2 linked regions of the Homo sapiens genome follow. The protein of the gene in region 2 interacts with the protein of the main gene of each other region in a pairwise test. Each region holds a gene or a part of one and is shown on either strand. Other genes may lie near its edges. The genes, in order: FEZ2 and BRD1.

Region 1 (10,161 bases), on a different chromosome or scaffold from region 2:
CGTTCTAGGTGGAGTATATTGCCTGTGCATAAGTACCAACGTGCGAGGCAGCATTTAGGGCACAGGAATCTGTGGGACCCACCCGGGAGCCCTGGTAGAGTGCGAGCCGCCACAGAGACGAAAACGAAGGGCCCTGCTTACTGATGGTAACGATCGCATGGTCTGGTGGGGAGACCAAGGCATACACAAGTAATATTAATAATTACAGAATCACCTAAGAGCAATGATAGGAGGTTCACGGGGTTTTATCACAGCTGGGAGAGGTGAGGCGCAGAGTTCCTGAGGGCACTTTTTAAACCACCTGAGCCGCAATTATAATTTGGTTAAGTAAGAGTTGTAATTAGGTACCATGGTTTTACCCCCAAAAGATGGTAAATAGGAATGGTGAGAGTAAAGGGACTTGAGCATGTTGTGTATATAGGGGGAGAGGAGCCTCCGGAGAGGCTGAAGGTAAAATGAGTGGAATAAGATTGGGCGCGGTGGCTCACACCTGTGATCCCAGCACTTTGAGAGGCTGTGGTGGGAGGATGGCTTGCTTCCAGCAGTTCGAGACCAGACTGGGCAATATCGTGAAATCTGGTCTTTACAAAAAAATTAAAAAAAAATTAGTGAAGTCCGGTGGCGCATGCCCGTGGTCCCACGGACCCAGCTGCCCGGAGGCTGAGATGGCAGGATTGCTTGAGTCCTGGAGGCGAAGGTTGCAGTGAGCCATCATCGCACAACTGCACTCCAGCCTGGGTGTCAGAGCGAGACTTTGTCTCAAAAATGAGGACATGGGAAGGAATGGATTTTCAGAGCATTGATGGGATGGAGAGACTCTTAGAGGTTAGGGAAGAATTTTTGAGAGACAGGACAGGAGTCACGGGCACGGAAAGGAGTTTCCAGCCTGATTGTCTCCTTTCCTTTGTGAAACAAACAGATTTATCAGGAATAAGGTAGGAAGCTTGTAAAGACAGCCTTGGGAGTGGGGCCTGTAAACATGGCTGAGCAGTGGTGCAGGCCCACCTGTGTTTGGAGACCATCTCCTTTTATTGGTTCCTCAGTACAGTGTTCTGCCCAGGTGTAGAGAAGGGAAACACTTATAATTGGATTTTATACACACATGCATGCCGTCAGTAGCAAAAGATGACATTTTTGGAAGCCTGTTCCCAAAGAGAAGATAATTTTATGTATATGTAGATTTAGATACTCTGAATCACTAAACCCAGGACACATTCTGGATTTAAAAATTAGTGTAGATGTATTATGTATTTGGGTTTTTCAAGAGTAGCTGACTTAAATCAATTAGAGGATTGTACGTAGATCGTTAAGAGTTTTTGTTTCACTTAGACCGTCAGGAGAGTAGGTTATTTTAGCCTTTGCTTAAAAATATTTTGTCGCTCTTGTTAATGGTATTTAGTAGATGATATGTTGGTGGTAATGCATGTCTCTTGACTTGGGAATGCATATGAAATCTCTTTTTTTCCGGGAGTTGGGAGCTGGTCATCACTGGCATTGTCCCTTTTATATTGCAAAAACATACTCATCATTGCTTGATAGTCTGTTCCAGTTCCCTTTTCACTAGATATAATTGATAATTGTTTTACTCAGATATTGCTGTGCTTTAGGTCAAGGGGTCCCCAACCCCTGGTCCACAGACCGGTACTGGAACTGGGCCACACTACAGGAGGTGAGTGGCTGAGTGAGTGAGCAAAGCCTCATCTGTATTTACAGCTCCTCCCCATTGCTTGCATTACCACCTGAGCCACCTCCTGTCAGATCAGCCACGGCATTAGATTCTCATAGGAGCGTGAACCCTATTGTGAACTGCACAAGTGAGGGTTCTAGTTTGCAGACACCTTATGAGAATCTAATGCTTGATGATCTGTCACTGTTTCCCCTCTCCCCCAGATAGGACCATCTAGTTGCAGGAAAACAAGCTCAGGGCTCCCATTGATTCTACGTTATGGTGAGTTGTAAAATTATTTCATGATATATGACAGTGTAATAATAGAAATAAAGTACACCGTAAATGTAATGTGCTTGAATCACCCCAAAGCCCTCCCCGACCCTTGGCACTTCATTTAACTTCTCTGAGCCTCAGCTTTTGTTTTGGTTAAATATGGATTGTATTTACGTACTGAGGTTTTACTTATAAGAGTATTCTGCAGGATTCGATGTTGGCAGGACTTTGACCTCCTTGCAAAAGAGCTGTCCTGACCGTTGTTTACGACTGGTTGTAATACTTGGTGATAAAGATGAAGGCAGTTCATATGTCTTGACTGCAGAATTCTAGAAATCTTTCACTAGAGTTGCCTCTGTGTCCTTCCAACTACCATTGTTTTGACCTTGGTGGAGACTGTTAGTTGGCTTTCATTTTCTTGGAAGATCAAACTCACTGACAGGCACTTCTAAGTGAAATATTCCATCCCATTTGCCTTTTTCTTATAGCCTTGTTTAAGAAGGAGCAAATCAGCAGACAAAGCAAACTCCTCAAATTCTGGACTGTCTTCACCTGCTAGTGTATCCTGCTTAAATTCCTGCCAGGATTAGGTCTATAGTCAGTGATACGGTTTGGCTGTGTCCCCACCCAAATCTCAACTTGAATTGTATCTCCCAGAATTCCCACGTGTTGTGGGAGGGATCCAGGGGGAGGTAATTGAATCATGGGGGCTGGTCTTTCCTATGCTATTCTCATGATAGTGAATAAGTCTTACAAGATCTGATGGGCTTATCAGGGGTTTCCGCTTTTGCTCCTTCCTCATTTTCCCTTGCTGCCGCCATGTAAGAAGTGCCTTTTGCCTCCTGCCATGATTCTGAGGCCTCCCCAGCCATGTGGAACTGTAAGTCCAATTAAACCTCGTTTTCTTCCCAGTCTCGGGTATGTCTTTATCAGCTGCATGAAAATAACCTAATATAGTAAGTTAGTACCAGTAGAGTGGGGCGTTGCTGAAAAGATACCTGAAAATGTGGAAATGACTTTGGAACTGGGGAACAGGTAGAGATTGGAATAGTTTGAAGGGCTCAGAAGACAGGAAAATGTGGGAAAGTTTGGAACTTCCTAGAGACTTGTTGAATGGCTTTCCCAAAATGCTGACAGCAATATGGACAATAAAATCCAGGCTGAGGTGGTCTCAGATGGAGATGAGGAAGTTGTTGGGAACTGGAGCAAAGATGACCCTTGTTATGTTTTGGCAAAGAGAACTGGTGGCATTTTGCCCCTGCCCTAGAGATTTGTGGAACTTTGAACTTGAGGGAGATGAGTTAGGGTATCTGGCAGAAAAAATTTCTAAGCAGTAAAGCATTCAGGAGGTAACTTGGGTGCTATTAAACGTATTCAGTTTTATAAGGGAAGCAGAGCATAAAAGTTTGGAAAATTTGCAGCCTGACTATGCGATAGAAAAAAAAAAAACCCATTTTCTGGGGAGAAATTCAAGCTAGCTGCAGAAATTTGCGTAAGTAGCAAGGACCCTAATGTTAATCCCCACGACCATGGGGAAAATGTCTCCAGGCCATGTCAGAGACCTTCATGGCAGCTCCTCCCATCACAGGCCTGGAGGCCCAAAAAGGAACAAGTGGTTTCGTGAGCTGGGCCTAGGGTCTGCCTGCTGTATGCGGCCTAGGGACTTGGTGCCCTGTGTACCAGCTGCTCCAGCTGTGGCTGAAAGGGGCGAGAGTACAGCTCAGGCTGTGGCTTCAGAGGGTGCAAGCCCCAAGCCTTGGCAGCTTCCATGTGGTGTTGAGCCCACAGGTGCACAGAAGTCAAGAATTGAGGTTTGGGAACCTCCTTCTAGATTCAGAAGATGTATGGAAATGCCTGGATGCCCAGGCAAAAGTTTGTTGCAGGGGCAGGGCCCTCATGGAGAACCTCTGCTAGGGCAGTGTGGAAGGGAAATGTGGGGTTGGAGCCCCCACACAGAGTCCCTACTGGGGCACTGCCTAGTGGGGTTGTGAGAAGAGGGCCGCTGTCCATGAGTTTATCAGGGGTTTCTGCTTTTGCATCTTCCTCCTTTTCTCTTGCTGCCACCATGTAAGAAGTGCCTTTTGTCTCCCACCATGATTCTGAGGCCTCCTCAGCCATGTGGAACTGTAAGTCCAATTAAACCTCTTTTTCGTCCCAGTCTTGGGTATGTCTTTATCAGCTGCATGAAAATGGACTATACAGTCATTCAGTGTTTGAAAATTTCTTATCCAGGAAGGTATGAGCCAGAAACCCAGCAAGTTTAGTAGTCCACAGAAACCCAGCAAATTTAGTAGTCCACAGACATTGCCTCTAATTCTACTTCACTGGCATTAGAGGAGATATTCCAACAGAGAGGAGAATAGGAATGGACTGTGCATATGGGAGCTTTGCTGGGTAGATGAGTTAGTTCTCTAGAGATTTTTGGGTTCACATTTTTATTAAGGCTAATTTTATTTTTTATTTTATTTATATATTTTTAGAGACAGGGTCTTGCTCTGTCTCCCAGGCTGGAGTACAGTGGTGCCATCATAGCTCACTACAGCCTTGAGCTCCTGGGCTTAAGCAGTCCTCCTGCCTTACCCTCCAAAAGTAGCTGGGACTGCGGCACATGCCACAGGCCTGGCCAATTTTTTTTTTTTTTTTTTTTTTGTAGAGATGTGGGGCTCCCTTTTGTTGCCCAGGCTGGTCTTGAACTCCTGGCTTCAAGCAATCCTCCCACTTTGGCTTCCCAAAATGCTGGGATTACAGGCATGAGCCACCAGGCCCATCCCTAACGTGCATTTTAAAGCCAAACATCATTTGGGATGTTATGCTTTTAGCCGTTGCAGTCCTATTGCTTCTTTTTAGCGCCCAATCCCTATTTGTTAACTATGTTATGTCTGTATTTTAAAATTTTCATTCTTGGGCTTAATACCTAGGTGATGGGTTGATAGGTGCAGCAAATCACCATGGCACATGTTTGCCTGTGTAACAAACCTGCACATCCTGCCCATGTACCCCGGAACTTAAAAAAAAAATTCATTCTTATGTTTATGCCCCAGCCAGGATTGTTTTTGTATCCTAGTGTCTTACACACTTGGAAAGAAAGCCTATTGCTTATTCACAATTAGATACCTAATAAACATTTTAGGGTGTTTTTTTCTACATGACATCTTTGTGTATACCTCTAGCTAGTAAGTAGCTTGTATGTTTAGTGTTTGATTTTACGTATCCCAATTAGATTTCAAGTCACTTGTATCTCTGAACTTTAGTTTTTCATAAAACATCATGTTTTATTGTGCTGATTATTACTTTGGTATTGAAACCTGAATTTTGGTTGTGAAATTTGAGTTTGGTGTTCTTATCTGGTGTGGTTTGGGACTCTCTTCAATACACCTCATTTGAATTAATGCTTAGAGTAATGGAGCTGGAAGGAGTATCTGCTTCTTGTCCAGGTCTCTCATTTATAGAAGGGCAGAGGATACCTAGGGAGGTTAAGGGGCCTGGCCAATGACTCGTTATTTGAAGAAGGATGGAGATGAGAGTTTGTTTCCCTAGTCTCAGTCAAATGCCCTTACCATTTGACCCTCTTGCCTCCCTGTAATGCTGTTGGGTAATAAGGTCAGGTAACTGCATTGGATAGAGCCTGGGTGTGTTTTATTGTGAACTCCCTCTCTTTCTCCTTTTTGTTGTATCTGCCTTAGTGCTTAGCTTCTTTATTACAAATTAGATATTAAATCCTGTTCTCACATTGAGAGCGAATTCTTTCTCCAGAAAGGATAACAAACCTTTTGTTTGAGAGAGATTTTTCACTTTTTGAAATGGTCTGTTTGTTTGAAGTTACAGAAGAAAAATAAGTGTAATGCACAGTTGTATTTATTATTCATGTGACCCTGGAAACATTTCTTCCCCGCCCTGTGTTTCAGTTTCTTCATCTGTAAAATGAGGTTAATAATGGTTCCCCCTTCTAATGTTGTTTTTGAAGATTACATGAGTTAATACATGTAAATTGCTTAGAACAGTGCCTAGCACCTAATATAATGGAAGTGTTGCCTACTGCCTATTGGCAGTTTTCTGTACGGCTTCACCTTCCCTTAGGACTTCTTGTCAGCCCAGTTATGTGATTTTTCACCTCGTTTTTGTTTAGGAGACTCTACTTTGTTGATGTTTTTCTGAGAAACAATGTGCTGTCTGTTTTTCTCTGTTTCCTTTGACATTTGCTGTTCATCTTTCACTGAATATTTGTTTAAGAAAGACATACAGAATGTTAATTTTCATTGATTGTAGCTTTCTTCTTTTTAAGGATTTGGAATGCCCTGACAGATAATTATGGGAATGTGATGCCTGTAGACTGGAAGTCATCGCATACTAGGACCTTGCACTTGCTTACTCTGAACCTCTCAGAAAAAGGGGTAAGTTAGGAATTGAACCAATAGTGTTTGAATAACTGATGCTGATAATAGAACTAAAACAGTAGCATTTCTGCTTAACACAGATTCACTGACCTGCCTCTCATTTCTGAAATTATAGCAGTTTGGGTGGCTCTGTCTTGATGTCTTGGCTGTAGGGCCATCACCTTGCTGGCACATTCCTCCAGTTCTTCTCCAGCACACTCATTTTTTATGTGTAGCTAAATTTCCATCACAATTTTTTTTTTTTTGACGGAGTCTCACTCTGTTGCCCAGGCTGGAGTACAGTGGCTTACTACAACCTCTGCCTCCTGGGTTCAAGCGATTCTCCCACCTCAAACTCCCGAGTAGCTGGGATTACAGGCATGAGCCACCAGTCCCGGCTAATTTTTGTATTTTCAGTAGAGACAGGGTTTCGCTGTGTTGGCCAGGCTGGTCTCGAACTCCTGACCTCAGGTAATTCACCTCCCAGAGTGCTGGGATTACAGGTGTGAGCCACTGCACCTGGCAGTGATGATGCACTGAAACACTCAGTAAAATTTGGTGCACTGAAACCCTCAGTAAAAATGCTAGCCTTTGGTTTAATATACTGAGAGTATTGGAATCTCAACACGGAGTTAACTTTTTAATGAGTGTAGTGACCTGCTAGACATGATATGTTGTCAGGAGACTGTGTATTCCTGTGAATACTGGAGAACCTTTAAAAGATATTTTAGTTCTTGGCTTTTAAAATACGGTCTTGGCTAACTTACCTTTCTTGGGGTCTCCTGTGTACATCCTGGTATTGTAAAGTGAAGATGTCTTGACTAAGAAGTGTGAGCACGAGTGGTGGGACAGGTAGGGAGGCAGAAAAGGGTTGAGAATTACTTGAAATGGAAAATCACAGTGTTAAGCTTTTTTAAATCTGATGAGAAACATATCCAAATTATCTAAGTTTCAGGGCCTGGCTGTTTAAGTTCCTTATCAAATAATAATGTAAACTCATGCCAGATCTTCTTGCGTGCTCTATATTTCATTAAGTGTAATTATGTGATTATTGAGAATATAGTGCAGTAGGCCTGTCACTATTTTACATAGTATTGTTAATGTTTTGTTAAAAGGATTTTCTTACATATGTGATCAGAAAAGCCTACTGTTATTATTTTCTAGTAAAATGTAGAATTCTGGCTGTATTTCCCAGTATTCAGTAGCTATGGAAATCTTCCTGACTGTGCCAGTCATTAATCCCATTAAGCTTTGCAGACTGACCTGGCATATATTTAATGAAAAGGAATAAAATGAGGGATCTTTTGCTCTGTCTTGTTTACTTAGGTCCTGGCTATCATTTTGGGCTTAGTTCAAGTTTCCCTTCCTCTCTGAAGCTTCCTATTACTGTTTTAGCCTTTGCTGATCTCATGGAATTATACAATTTTAGAGTTGGAAGGGGCTTTAAAGGACACTTAATCCAGCCTCTCACTTGGGGGGAATCCTCACCTCCAGCATCTCTGACAGATGGTCATTTAGCCATGGCCTAAATTCCTGCACGGAAGGAAAACACACTCCCCTCTAGGGGAACTGATGGCACTTGTGGGGTTGTGAACTTTGAAAGGACTTGTTATCTGTGCCACGGGGTTTAGCCTTGCTGTCTCATGGGTGCTAGTCCCCAGATCACTTTGTCCCTGTCTCTAAAATTACCACTGCCTTCTCTTGTTAATCATATGTTTCTGGGTCTGTCACTAGATTGTGACTTCCCGGCAGGTATTTGTATTTGTCTTTATAGTAACTATACTGTTCCTGGCACATAGTAAGTTTGAAGATACCTTTTTATTGAGTGAATAAGTGAATAGCCTTGTCAGTGAAACTGTAGGGCCAGAGATCGTGATAGAAAGGTTTTAAAAAAATATTTTCTATGTTATTTAAAATAATGCAGAATGCACCAAAACCAGTCCATGGGTACTACTTTTTTGACATATTAAAAAATAGCATAGAAGAGTTTCCATTCATAGTTTCAAAGTCAGGCCCATTAGCAGCGTGAGTGAGACAGTTTAATCCAATTTCATTGACTAAATGTACAGCGGGCCCACCATATTCTCTGGTTTCACATCTGCTGCTTTAGCCAACTGTGGATTAAAAAACTTGAAAAAAAAACCCCACAATAAAATAACAACACAACAATTGAAAATAATGAAAATAAAAAACCGAAAACCGATACAATATAACTTTATAATATAAATATTGTATAGTTATATACAATATAACTATAAACCATTTACCTTGTATTAGGTATTATAAGTAATTTACATATAATTTAAAGCTTATAGGGGGATGTGCACAGGTTATATGCAAATACTACCCCACTTTATATAAGGGACTTGAGCATCTGCAGATTTTGCTATTGGGGTGTCCTGGAACAAATTTCCCTTGGATACCGAGGGACTGCTGTATGTCTTGTATTGTTCTTAGATTGCATCTTGGGAGGTTGCTCCCTTTTGCTGCCTTTTGAATGTTATTTTCAATGCCACGGTAATGATATGGCCAAGGCAGTGATTAGTAATGACGTAGAGTTTAATGCTAGTACTGACATTAAAAAGCCTTACCTGGCTGGGCGCGGTGGCTCATGCCTGTAATCCCAGCACTTTGGGAGGCTGAGGTGGATGGATCACCTAAGGTCAGGAGTTTGAGACCAGCCTTACCAACACGGTGAAACCCCGTCTCTACTAAAAATACAAAATTAGCCAGGCGTGGTGGCGCATGCCTGTAATCCCAGATACTTGGGAGGCTGAGGCAGGAGAATTGCTTGAACCTGGGAGGCAGAGGTTGCAGTGCGCCGAGATCACGCCACTGCACTCCAGCCTGGGTGACAGAGCGAGACTCTGTCTCAAAAAATAAAAAAAAAAACAGCCTTACCTGGAAAAACTCAGCAGATGAAAGTGAACACGTGATCATTCACCTATCATCTCTCTGTTGTGACATGACTATTCTGGTGATGAATAGAATTGAAATCAGAACTCTGTTTCTCAGGGAGGATTAGCACACACTGAGTTTCTGAAAAACAAATGGGCAATAAGGACTATGTAAGAAGTCATCACGTCATTCTATTACATGGTATATAATTAAGCATTTTTTTTTTAATCTGGCAAAGTGACTGTATTTACCATTGCCACCTGGTGCTCTGTTCGTGCCGTGACTAAGCTATGTAAAATTTACCCTTTGAAAGCATTCTTTAGATTATTTTACTTATAAAACCAAGTGTATAGAAATTTTTTTTGACAAAAGAAGAATGGTTTTTGCATTAAAAAGAGAAAAACATTCAGGAAAACTAGTTTGCTAGATTGCAGTTTTAAATTTTTCTTTGATTGAAGATTAAGATGGCACACTTCTAAATTTGATATGTCTTTTTTAGAGTAAGGCAACTGGTATCTTTCAAATTCTTACGTGGGCACATTTTTTCCATTTGATGTATCTTCAGTTTTATACAGGGAAACAGTACCACCAGGTCTGTATCTAACCCTGGCATTGGAAGGAGTGATGGGAATGCTTGGCAAAGAGAAGGCACATTTAATGCTGAAGGGAGGAGTGAATAATGATACCCATGACAGCCAGGGCTAGTTTGCAAAGCCTGAAAGATATTCCAGCTCTTAGCATATGCCATCTCTGTGGGGAATGGACTTGGCTCTCTCTCTGGAAAGATGATCTGGGATCATTTCTGTTGTCATGGAAATTTATTATAATAGTTTACTGTTATTACTCATGTGTTTTGGCCATAACCCTATTCTAAATCTGGTGCCATTCTTGAATATACTTATATGATAGAATGCTTATCATTCATTTCAGCTTAAGAACATCTTCTGT
Region 2 (10,161 bases):
TGGAGAGCGCAGCTTCAGAGAGGGGTTAAAGCTCCACCCGGGTTCACCAAGAGCCAGCAGCACTGTTTGGAGCCTGTGTTTATTTTCTAAATTTCTCCAAGAAAAACGTGTTACTCTTAAAATCAGAAAATCAGAGACAAAGAATAAAAATATATTTCCATTGTGTTTTCTTTTTTTTTTTTTTGAGACAGTCTTGCTCTGTCGCCCAGGCTGGAGTGTAGTGGCGTAATCTCGGCTCACTGAGAGCACCGCCTCCCGGATTCACGCCATTCTCCTGCCTCAGCCTCCCGAGTAGCTAGGACTACAGGTGCCCGCCACCATGCCTGGCTAATTTTGTTTTTGTATTTTTAGTACAGACAGGGTTTCACCACATTAGCCAGGATGGTCTCGACCTCCTGACTTCGTGATCCACCCGCCTCGGCCTCTCTCTTTTTTCTTTTTTTTTTTGGAGATAGGGTCTCACTCTGTCACCCAGGCTTCAGTGCAATGGCACAATCTCCGCTCACTGCAGCCTCCACCTCCCAGGTTCAAGCGATTCTCCTGCCTCAGCCTCCGAAATAGCTGGGATTACAGGCATGCGCCACCATGCCCGGCTAATTTTTTGTGTTTGCAGTAGAAACGGGGTTTCTGCATGTTGGCCAGGCCGGTCTCAATCTCCCGACCTCAAGTGATCCACCCGCCTCGGTATCCCAAAGTGCTGGGATTACAGGCATGAGCCACAGAACCTGGCCCTATCCCCAGTCTTTAAAAGAGTACAGCCCATCCTCCAATCCTCACAGGTGCCGAGTGCTGCGGGACCCCACGGGAAGCAGGGAGCCCAGCACTGCTGCCATGAGGGGAACAGAGGGCGAAGCAACGATGGCCCAGCTTGGTTGAATCCCATGATGGCGGGAAGCGGACCCCACGATGGCGGGAACGTGGACCCCGCGATGGCGGGAACGTGGAAGAGAGGAAGAGGGCCAGGCCTCATCCCAGAAGAAGCGACCTAGCACGGGTCAGTGATTCATCAAGAGAAAGGGTAGGCCAAGAAATCAGGGATATGGGACCTTTAGACAAATAAGCCAAACACACCGTGATTTCTGCTCAGTTTGTGGCTCAGAGCTGGAGCTGAGGTGCTGGAGCTCTATGTGCTTTGACAACCCATGTGGGCAGGACACACCCTTCGACAGACAATCCCAGAGGTGCGACTAACAAGCAGGGTGCAGGGGACAGCCCCGGTTTCCGAGGACCAGTCTAGAGAAGGGTGCAGGTGACTACACATGGCTGCAACACGTGCCTGGGCAACCAAGAAGCACAAGCCCAGGCTGGAGTCCAGGTGGGCCGTGGACACACTCCCAGAGCCCTTTCTACAACATGCGCAAACCACGAAGTTAAAGGGCTGGAGGCAAAGCCAGAGATCCTCCGGCTTCACGCCACCCTCAGAAGTTAGCCGAGGCCCACTCTGGATGAAAACCCCCAACTAAGCTGCTTTCTGGGTCTGCATCGTCGAGACCGGCCACCCCATAGGGAGCCACAGCCACACAGTCCTCTTGGTGGGCACCCAAAACGCAGCCAGTCTGAAGTGACAGGTGCTGAGCGTAAAATACACATCAGATGGCAAAGAAGGTGAAAAGCTTATATATCCTCAGTAACGTTTACCGATCCCATGTTGAAATCAACTCTTCCATACACTGAGTAAAATAAGACATATTATTAAAGTAAATTCCACCTGCTTCTTTTCCATTTTTCAGTGAGGCTACTAGAAAATGTAAATGATGTATGCGGTTGCATGCTAGTGGCTCCCGGACCATGCTGATAGGGAGCTGGCAACACAGAGCAGGACAGAGTCTGCTAGAAAGAGCGTCTTCCACCTCCTCCGGACACGGCGCCAGTTCTTACCGTCTTCCCAGGAGAAAGGCCGCCGCGGTGCCGCAGCAGGCCGCTCAGGCAGGTGCATCCCCGAGGCCTCTTCCAAGCCGATGCTGTCCACCTCGCGCCGGGCCTGCCTCAGAACAACACCTCCCTGATCGCGCAGCCTCACCGCGGCTCTATAGAACACGGTGTCCCTGGCATTGTACTTCATGCAGTTATCTATAATGAGATCAAAATCCTCCTCAAACTCATGGAGGTTTTTATACCCTTGAGCTTCTAACCGTTTCCTCATTGTGGCAAAGTCCATGGGATGTTTAATGTGATCCAAATAATCTGGTACCTAATTTTAGGGAGGAAAAAGAATCATTTACAAACTAAAACAGGATATTAGTTGACTCTATATTTATTATTCCATATAACCCACAAGCCCATCCTATCTGAGAGCCACACACAGACACGCAGACGGTACAGACATAAGACCCAAGTACTGCAGGGACCTTCCCGACCCCAGCTCCTTCAGCTAAAGCACGCTGGAGGGTGCCGGGCGGATGCTGCCACAGCCCAGGGTACTGTCTGCACAGGGCCTCTTGCCCACTGCACTTTCAGTATTTTACAATGAAATGTATCACTTTTATAATTTAAAAACAAATACGTTAAATAAAAACGAGAATTAAGAACACAAGGGATGTACTCTAGCCAATCACACGTTTCCCGGTCAAACGGCAGCACAAATCCACAGTCACACATGCGGCAGGACAGACGAGCGCCGCAAACACCCACCTCCTTCAGACTCACGGGCTGCGCAAATATCCTGGCGGGGTCCTTGTCTTGCAGCTGGTCCAGCACTGAGCGCAGCAGCACCGTCAGCGGGGTCAGCCGCAGCTCCATGGCGACCTGCTCCACCTTCACCTGGGGGGGCCCAGCAGAGCCTCAGCTTTAGGGAGCCGCACATGCGTCTCAGCCCCACCACGCGCCCCACAGCCACAAGCAGCCCCCACAGGCTCCTGTGCTTCCGTCCAGGCATAGGACAACGCAGCCTCCACTTAGGGCTCTGCAACCCATGGCAGCCAGGCACCCAGCCTGGGCTGAGCAAGGCACTGCTGTGGGCCAGGACCCACCGGGTGCAGCCCACCCTCTGCAGGAGCTGCCAGCGTCCCACCCACGCCCCGTGGCCAGTGGTGCACTCCACGCGGGACAGGCCCAGCCCCACCTGCTCACGCTTGAGCTTCTCCCGCTTGCGCAGCAGCTCGATCAGCAGGCGAGCGCGCTCCAGGTCGTGCCGCAGCCGCTGCCAGTACTTCAGCTTCTCTTTGGCAGCCTTCATCTCCTCATCATTTTCTCTCTGAGAACAGTGAACACTTCCGTCAGTCAAACCCAGAGGCTCCTTCTGCAAAAGGCCTCAGATACCATGCAGGTGAGACCCCAAGAGGCATCCACGTCAGGGGTCCTGCAGGCCCATCCTGGGGAGGACAACAGACCACCCTCACTAGAGAGCCCCAGGACAGCACCGGGACAGAGGGGACAGAGGAGACAGAGGGGATGGAGGGGACAGAGGGGACCGCCAGGCCAAGGTGAGCAGGGGGCTGGCCCCGGTGCACAGGTTCCACCCTCCAGAGAGGACAGAGGCCTCCGCAAGCTGGCGGCGGGGGGGGCCTTCACAGAACCAGAAAGGCCCACAAAGGCGGGGCCAGGACAGAATGGGGGACCCTTGAGGACCCACCTCCAGGACAGCTGGGAATGGAGGGAGCGGCTGGAAAGAAACCAGGTGCACAGAAAACCACATGCTGGGCCCATCCTGGCTTGGACAGAGCATGACGGGGGCCTGGCACACAGCCGACCTGCTGCCCTGCCCTGCACAGCGCCTCCATCCCGACACACGTTTCCCCACAGCCAGGGTCCCATTTCCATTGATAGCACCTGCTCCCTTCTCAGTGGACAGAAGAGTGCGCCAGACAGCACAGGCCGCCAGCCTCAACCCAGCCAACATCCACACCAGGGTGATCAGAAGAAAATCAGAGCCCTGCAAAGGCCATGACACAGATGGTCGCAGGAGAGTAGGCCACCTGGGTCTGCCCTCAGCCCTGTCCTCACCATGTCCCCCAGGCCTGGCCGCATGAGGCCTGCTCGTCACAGTGCCGGGGCACCCTGACCCTACCTCAAAGGGGAGAGGAAGTCAACGAGGGAGTTGGCCTGAGTGGGCCCCCAACACCTGTCATCCTCCACAGCTGCAGGACACGCGCGCCCTGCCAGCCTCAGGACAGCCGTGGCCATCAGTTTCTGGCACATGCTTCACAGCCCTGAGACCCTCCTCTCCCCCAACGCCTCTGTCCCCGGGTTCCCACCTGCCCACCTCAGGGTACTGTCATAGCTTTTCAAAGGACCGAGGGTGTGAAGGCAAAGACTGCTGGACTACAAGATGCAAGGACCCCGGACTCCAAACTGCTCAGAAAAGGAGGCTCAAGGAGGGAGGCCGAGCCCCGCACCCCCACCCCCAAGGCCAGGCCTCTCCATGGCGAGGCAGAGCGTTGCTGCGCTGATGTCCCCTGAAGTGAGGATCTCTGGGTTTTCCTCAATGCTGCTGAACACCCTCAGGCAGGAAATCGGGGCTAAGAGTAACAAGATCCACATCAACTCAAGCAAAGGCAGGAAAATGTGGGCTCCAAAAACCAAGCTCCCCGGAGCATCTGAGTATTGCCTGTCCCTCAGCTTGCAATCGACACTTCTGAAAACCTCGGCCAAAAGGACATTTGGCCTGGGAATCTGTTACGAAGCGGAAGAAATCTCCTCATCACCAGGAAGCCCTTTATCACGCACTGGCTGCTAAGCAAACTTACTAGTCTGCTCCCCAACCTGGTTTAACAAACGCCATCGGCAGTGGCAGGGGCCCCGTTGACAGCACCTGGGCCCAAGGTCCCATGACACATGCAGCCTCATCCACTCAGAAGGATCAAGGTTCCTTACTCGGCTCTCAAGGGCTCGATATTTCCCATGTAAAAATCAACAGTGGGAGGCTCCACGAGAAAGGACAGAAGTGAAGAAGCACTCAGGCATCCCCACTGCCGGGAAGAAGCTGAGCGCCTCCGCGTCCATTCCAGACACATGGGGGAGACACAGGGCAGGGCTAGGCGACGGTCAGGTTAAAATCGCCTCTGCTGGGAGGACAGGCCAGCTCCTGGGGTGAGGGCCCACAGTGTTACAGAGTGGCCGACCCCAGGCCTCCTGGCAACAGCACCCAGCTCCTGCCACTGGGCCCAATGCCGCCAGCAGGTGCGTGGGACTGGCAGAGGCCACACACGCAGCACAGCAAGGACGATGTGGGCAGCAGCGCCCAGCATGCCACAGGACAGACACTGGGAAAGCTGCAGGATGCGCTCCCAGGACAGGAAGGGTGGGCCACGGGAGCAGGAGACAGTGGGACGCCACCAGCATACACACAAATCGCTGCTCACCCTTTATAAAGCTAAGCTGCCGCCCCCGTTCTCCCTGCGGCCTTCAACGGCCACACACACCAGAACAAAAACCAGGGCCTATATGCGCAGCCAGCACAGACCCGCCATCGCTGCAGCACCCTCGGCGCCTGCTGGCCTCTCAAGAGACCCCGTCCAGTTCATCCACCTGCCCCCACCACAGGGTCAGGCTGGGGCAGGTACACAGAGACACAGAGGAATCAAATGCATCAGGTACTTCCAAAGCTTCAAAACCATGAAACCACACCAAGCCGTGGCCATCCCTGGCCAGGAGAAGGCAGAAGCACAGTCTCTCCCAATAGCCCGTTCACACAGAGGCAGGTTTCCAGGCTCTCCACGCCGACTGCTCTGCTGCGGCTCAAGTCCAGGCAGCTCCTTCTGCTCCTTCCCAGGTGACTTCGAGAAGCTGCCCCCTCTGCCAGAAGAGCTGCTCTGGCCGGGCTGTGGGGATGTTCTCTCCTTACAAACGTATTCTGCACACAACAGGACGTGAGGCCTAACAGGCAGCGATGAAGCAGAGGGGGCCCAGCTGGCAGGTTCCAGCGGGTCACCTCTTCTTTGCAACCCTCCCCCTTCCCTTGCCTGGCTCCACCACGCCCCAGGCCACCCCCAGCTGCCTGGGTCCCCGTGGCCCCTGCCCACTGGCCCACGTGTCCTGCTACTGCAGGGATTCTGGCCCTCGTGTCCCAGCTTATGAGAGTAGAAATGATGATTCCCACCGCTGGACGTCCCGTTTGGCCACATCCATGCCCACTTTCCATGGAATCTGCCCTTCAACAGCTCCTCTGTGACTTACCTGGAGTTCTGTCCAGCCCCGAGATAAGACCCAAGATCTGAACCCTCAACTTCCTCCCAAAAAAGCCTCTCTTCCATTCCCCAACATCGCAGGGGCGGAGACCAATGCCTCCACTCTCTTCCTTTCCCCAACATCGCGGGGGCCGAGACCAATGCCTCCACTCTCTTCCTTTCCCCAACATCGCGGGGGCCGAGACCAATGCCTCCACTCTCTTCCTTTCCCCAACATCGCGGGGGCCGAGACCAATGCCTCCACTCTCTTCCATTCCCCAACATCGCGGGGGCCGAGACCAATGCCTCCACTCTCTTCCTTTCCCCAACATCGCGGGGGCCGAGACCAATGCCTCCACTCTCTTCCTTTCCCCAACATCGCGGGGGCCGAGACCAATGCCTCCACTCTCTTCCTTTCCCCAACATCGCGGGGGCCGAGACCAATGCCTCCACTCTCTTCCATTCCCCAACATCGCAGGGGCCGAGACCAATGCCTCCACTCTCTTCCTTTCCCCAACATCGCGGGGGCCGAGACCAATGCCTCCACTCTCTTCCTTTCCCCAACATCGCGGGGGCCGAGACCAATGCCTCCACTCTCTTCCTTTCCCCAACATCGCGGGGGCCGAGACCAATGCCTCCACTCTCTTCCTTTCCCCAACATCGCGGGGGCCGAGACCAATGCCTCCAGCCCCCAGAGCTTCCCGCCGCTCAGCCACTTCCTGACTCTGGCCTCTTAAGAGCCCCCCAAACCGTGCTGTCCTTTCCAGGAGCCCTGGAGGCTACGAGGTGAGGACAGAGGAGAGATGGAAAGCCAAGTCACATCATGGAACGGAAGATGCGGTTAACTCATTCAACAGCCAAAAGACATTCACTGAAGCCTCAACTCTGTGGACACGTGAGGATCTCACTTGGAGAGGGGCTGGCTCACAGACCTGCCCGGGGAGCCCCAAGTTCCATGGACAGACACACAGTGGGGCAACCCAGGTGGACGGCACGGGAGACCTGGAATATTCCACAGCCAAGACGCACCAAGGCCGTCAGAAAACTTTGGACCCCACCACACCAAATCAGACCCACAAACCACCACCTGCCAGACCAGAGCACCAGACTCTGTAGTTCCCTGGAGCACAAGGCAGCCACGGCAGGTGACTGAACAGGGCTCACGCTGCAGAGGCAGAGTCTGCGAGGCAGAGACAGCACCGGCCACCGCACCACCGCACGGGGACCCAACCGTGAACCCTGTAGACTCAAGCTTCCTGTGAGCAAGTCACCACCTCACAGCAGAGCAGGATGGTTTCGCTTCGTGCCCAGGATGGCAGTGAAAAGCACCATGAGGAAATTCCAAGAGGCACTCAGGCCACGCGACGCCAGCAGCAGACAGCTCTTCCAAAAGACCAGCGGCTCCTCACTAGGCAGCGTGGGCAGAGGGCGCTGGCCGCAGGTCCTGGGCCGTGTGCAGAGCTGCTTGTGTTTTCAATTACTTTTGTGCATCTCACAGAAGCTACTTCACTCTGTAAACCCATTTTTTCAGAACTGTTTCACAGTATCAGATGAGTCTATAAACTCAAACCTACTATCAAAATGTAAGAGTTTGGGTTTGTTCTTTTAAAAAGGAAAAGTCCTGCTCCTTCCCTCCCACTCTCTCAGCTCTCTCGAGCCCTCCCCACCCCACCACAGTCCCAGCTAAACCAACCTTCAGAGCAAGGCCCTCGAAATAAACCACTCCTCACATATTTCCAAAACCCACCCTCCAGGCCCAGCACACAGACCCCCACCCACATGGCCCGGGTGTGCTCACCGGGTCCCACTCCTGCTGTCCCCAGCCCGGACGCTCATGCAGCCACAGCATAACACATCCCTGAGCATCCCCAGTCCCCAGAGCTGGCCACTGCCCATCAGCGTGTGTGCGGGCAGGGCAGGGCGGGGGAGCGCAACTCAAAACGGAAGAAACACCCAGTGACAGGCATGGATGAGAATCACCCCCCGAGTCGCAGATCCAGAGCCCAGTGCACCCGACTCCTCCTACAGCTCCAGGGCTGGACGAGACGGAGGCTTCCCAACGGGGAGCCTGAGCCCAGGGGGCAGCACCGTGACCAGCCTGAACCAGGTGCCCTCTCCCTGGAGGGTGGGGGTGAGAGACGCAGAAAGGCTGTGGGGGCCACGAGCCACGTACCTGCTGTGAGCTTCGCTGAGACTGCAGGCTGGACTGCAGCCGCCGCAGCAGGGGGGCCCCGTTCCTGGACAGCCGCTTGAGCAGCCAGTAGCTGTGGGCTCGCTCCACAAACTGCTTCTTCCGCTGAATGGCCACCTGATTCGCAATCCTATTTAACCTAAAACACAAACACTCAGTGTATCTTTGAAGCAGTACATTAAGATGTTTCATCACATAAACTAGAAATGACAGTACTACTGCTAACAAAACCATGTGTTCATACTTTTTCTCCCTAAGCCATGACACCTGTATTTCTACTATCCCTAGTGCTGCTAAAACAAAATTCACGATCTCCAACCATTTGAAGATTTCATCCACTTTTTAGGTTGGGCACAGTGGCTCCTGCCTGTAATCCCAGCACTTTGGGAGGCCGAGGTGGGGGGATCCCTTGAGGCCAGGAGTTTGAGACCAGCCTGGCCAACATGGTGAAACCCCGTCTCTACCAAAAATACAAAAATATTAGCTGAATGTGGAGGTACATGCGTGTAGTCCCGGCTACTTGGGAGGCTGAGGCAGGAGAATCGCTTAAACCTGGGAGGTGGAGGTTGGTGTGAGCCGAAATCGCACCACTGCACTCCAGCCTGGGTGACAGAGCGAGATTCTGACTCAAAAATAAAATTAAAAAAAAAAGATTTCATCCACTTCTCATTCACTACAACATTTATCAGATTGAATATCCAAAAAGAAAACATGCTGAGCAAAGCCTTCAACAGTTTTCATTCTTTCTATGTGACCCCATCTGCACACAAGCTGACTTCAACCACATCTGTGTCAGCGGGCCCAAAACCTTAGACACTGTCCACTCAGACGCCATGGGAGAGGTGGGCACTGGTCCCCATGTCACCTCCAAGAAGAGAGACAGAGCTCAAGGTATAAGCCGCTAACAGGTGCTGTTTTACCGTGCTCACTAAAATGACATCAGTCATCTTCAAGTCTCCCAAGAAATGCAAAGTGCTGCCCTTGGGGGCACATGGAGCCACCAAGACCCTCGGCGCCTCTCATCCACCAAGGGAACCCAACGCCGCCTCTTCCGGCAGAACCTGGCTCAAGCGTGGAGCCTGCAGGAGAACACTCACCAGACCCAGAACTGACCGTGAGGTGCCTTCTCACAGGGAACCCGCCGGGGGAACTTTGCCAGAGTGACCCATCAGCAAGAGCTCCCGTGCAGATGTGGAACCCCTTTAGGCTAAAACAATCCTGCCCACCACTCCAAGGGCAGTCTGCATGCTCAGGACACCAAACGCCTGCCCACGAAGCACAGCCCTCCAAGGACAGCCAACGGAAGGAAGCCAGAGGCTGGAGAGGGCATCGGCAGGTGCACTGGGACGCTGGGCTCTGATCACAGCCCCACAGGGCTCCTCCTCTGCAGGCTGGGCTGGGCTGGACCTGGTCACCTCATGGCCTGCTGTTTTGGGAGCAGTCTGTTTTTACCACTTGGGACTGAGGCAAACCATGTGCAGTCAATAGCACAACACTTAACTCTTCTGGTTCAGTGAGTCTTTTTTTTTTTTTTTTTTGAGATGGAGTCTCACTCTATTGCCCAGGCTGGAGTGCAGTGACGCAATTTCAGCTCACTGCAACCTCCGCCTCCCGGGTTCAAGCGATTCTCCTGCCTCAGCCTCCCTAGTAGCTGGGACTACAGGCGCCCGTTGCCACACCCAGCTAATTTTTGTATTTTTAGCAGAGACAAGGTTTCACCGTGCTGGCCAGGCTGGTCTCAAAACTCCTGACCTCAGGTTTCTGTCCACCTCGGCGTCCCAAGTGCTGGGATGACAGGCATAAGCCACCGCTCCCGGCCCACACCCAGCTAATTTTTATGTTTTCAGTGAAGATGGGGTTTTGCTA

Evidence for each region.
Region 1: the proteins of BRD1 (region 2) and FEZ2 interact in a two-hybrid assay, tested with the Homo sapiens proteins (one study listed by BioGRID).

Annotation. Positions count from the first base shown.
Region 1 is NC_000002.12:36,587,075-36,597,235, reverse strand, and holds part of FEZ2 (fasciculation and elongation protein zeta-2), read left to right. Parts: intron 1-6,224; coding exon 6,225-6,333; intron 6,334-10,161. UniProt on the Homo sapiens protein: Involved in axonal outgrowth and fasciculation.
Region 2 is NC_000022.11:49,795,927-49,806,087, forward strand, and holds part of BRD1 (bromodomain-containing protein 1), read right to left. Parts: intron 8,435-10,161; coding exon 8,278-8,434; intron 3,194-8,277; coding exon 3,062-3,193; intron 2,761-3,061; coding exon 2,632-2,760; intron 2,192-2,631; coding exon 1,879-2,191; intron 1-1,878. UniProt on the Homo sapiens protein: Scaffold subunit of various histone acetyltransferase (HAT) complexes, such as the MOZ/MORF and HBO1 complexes, that acts as a regulator of hematopoiesis.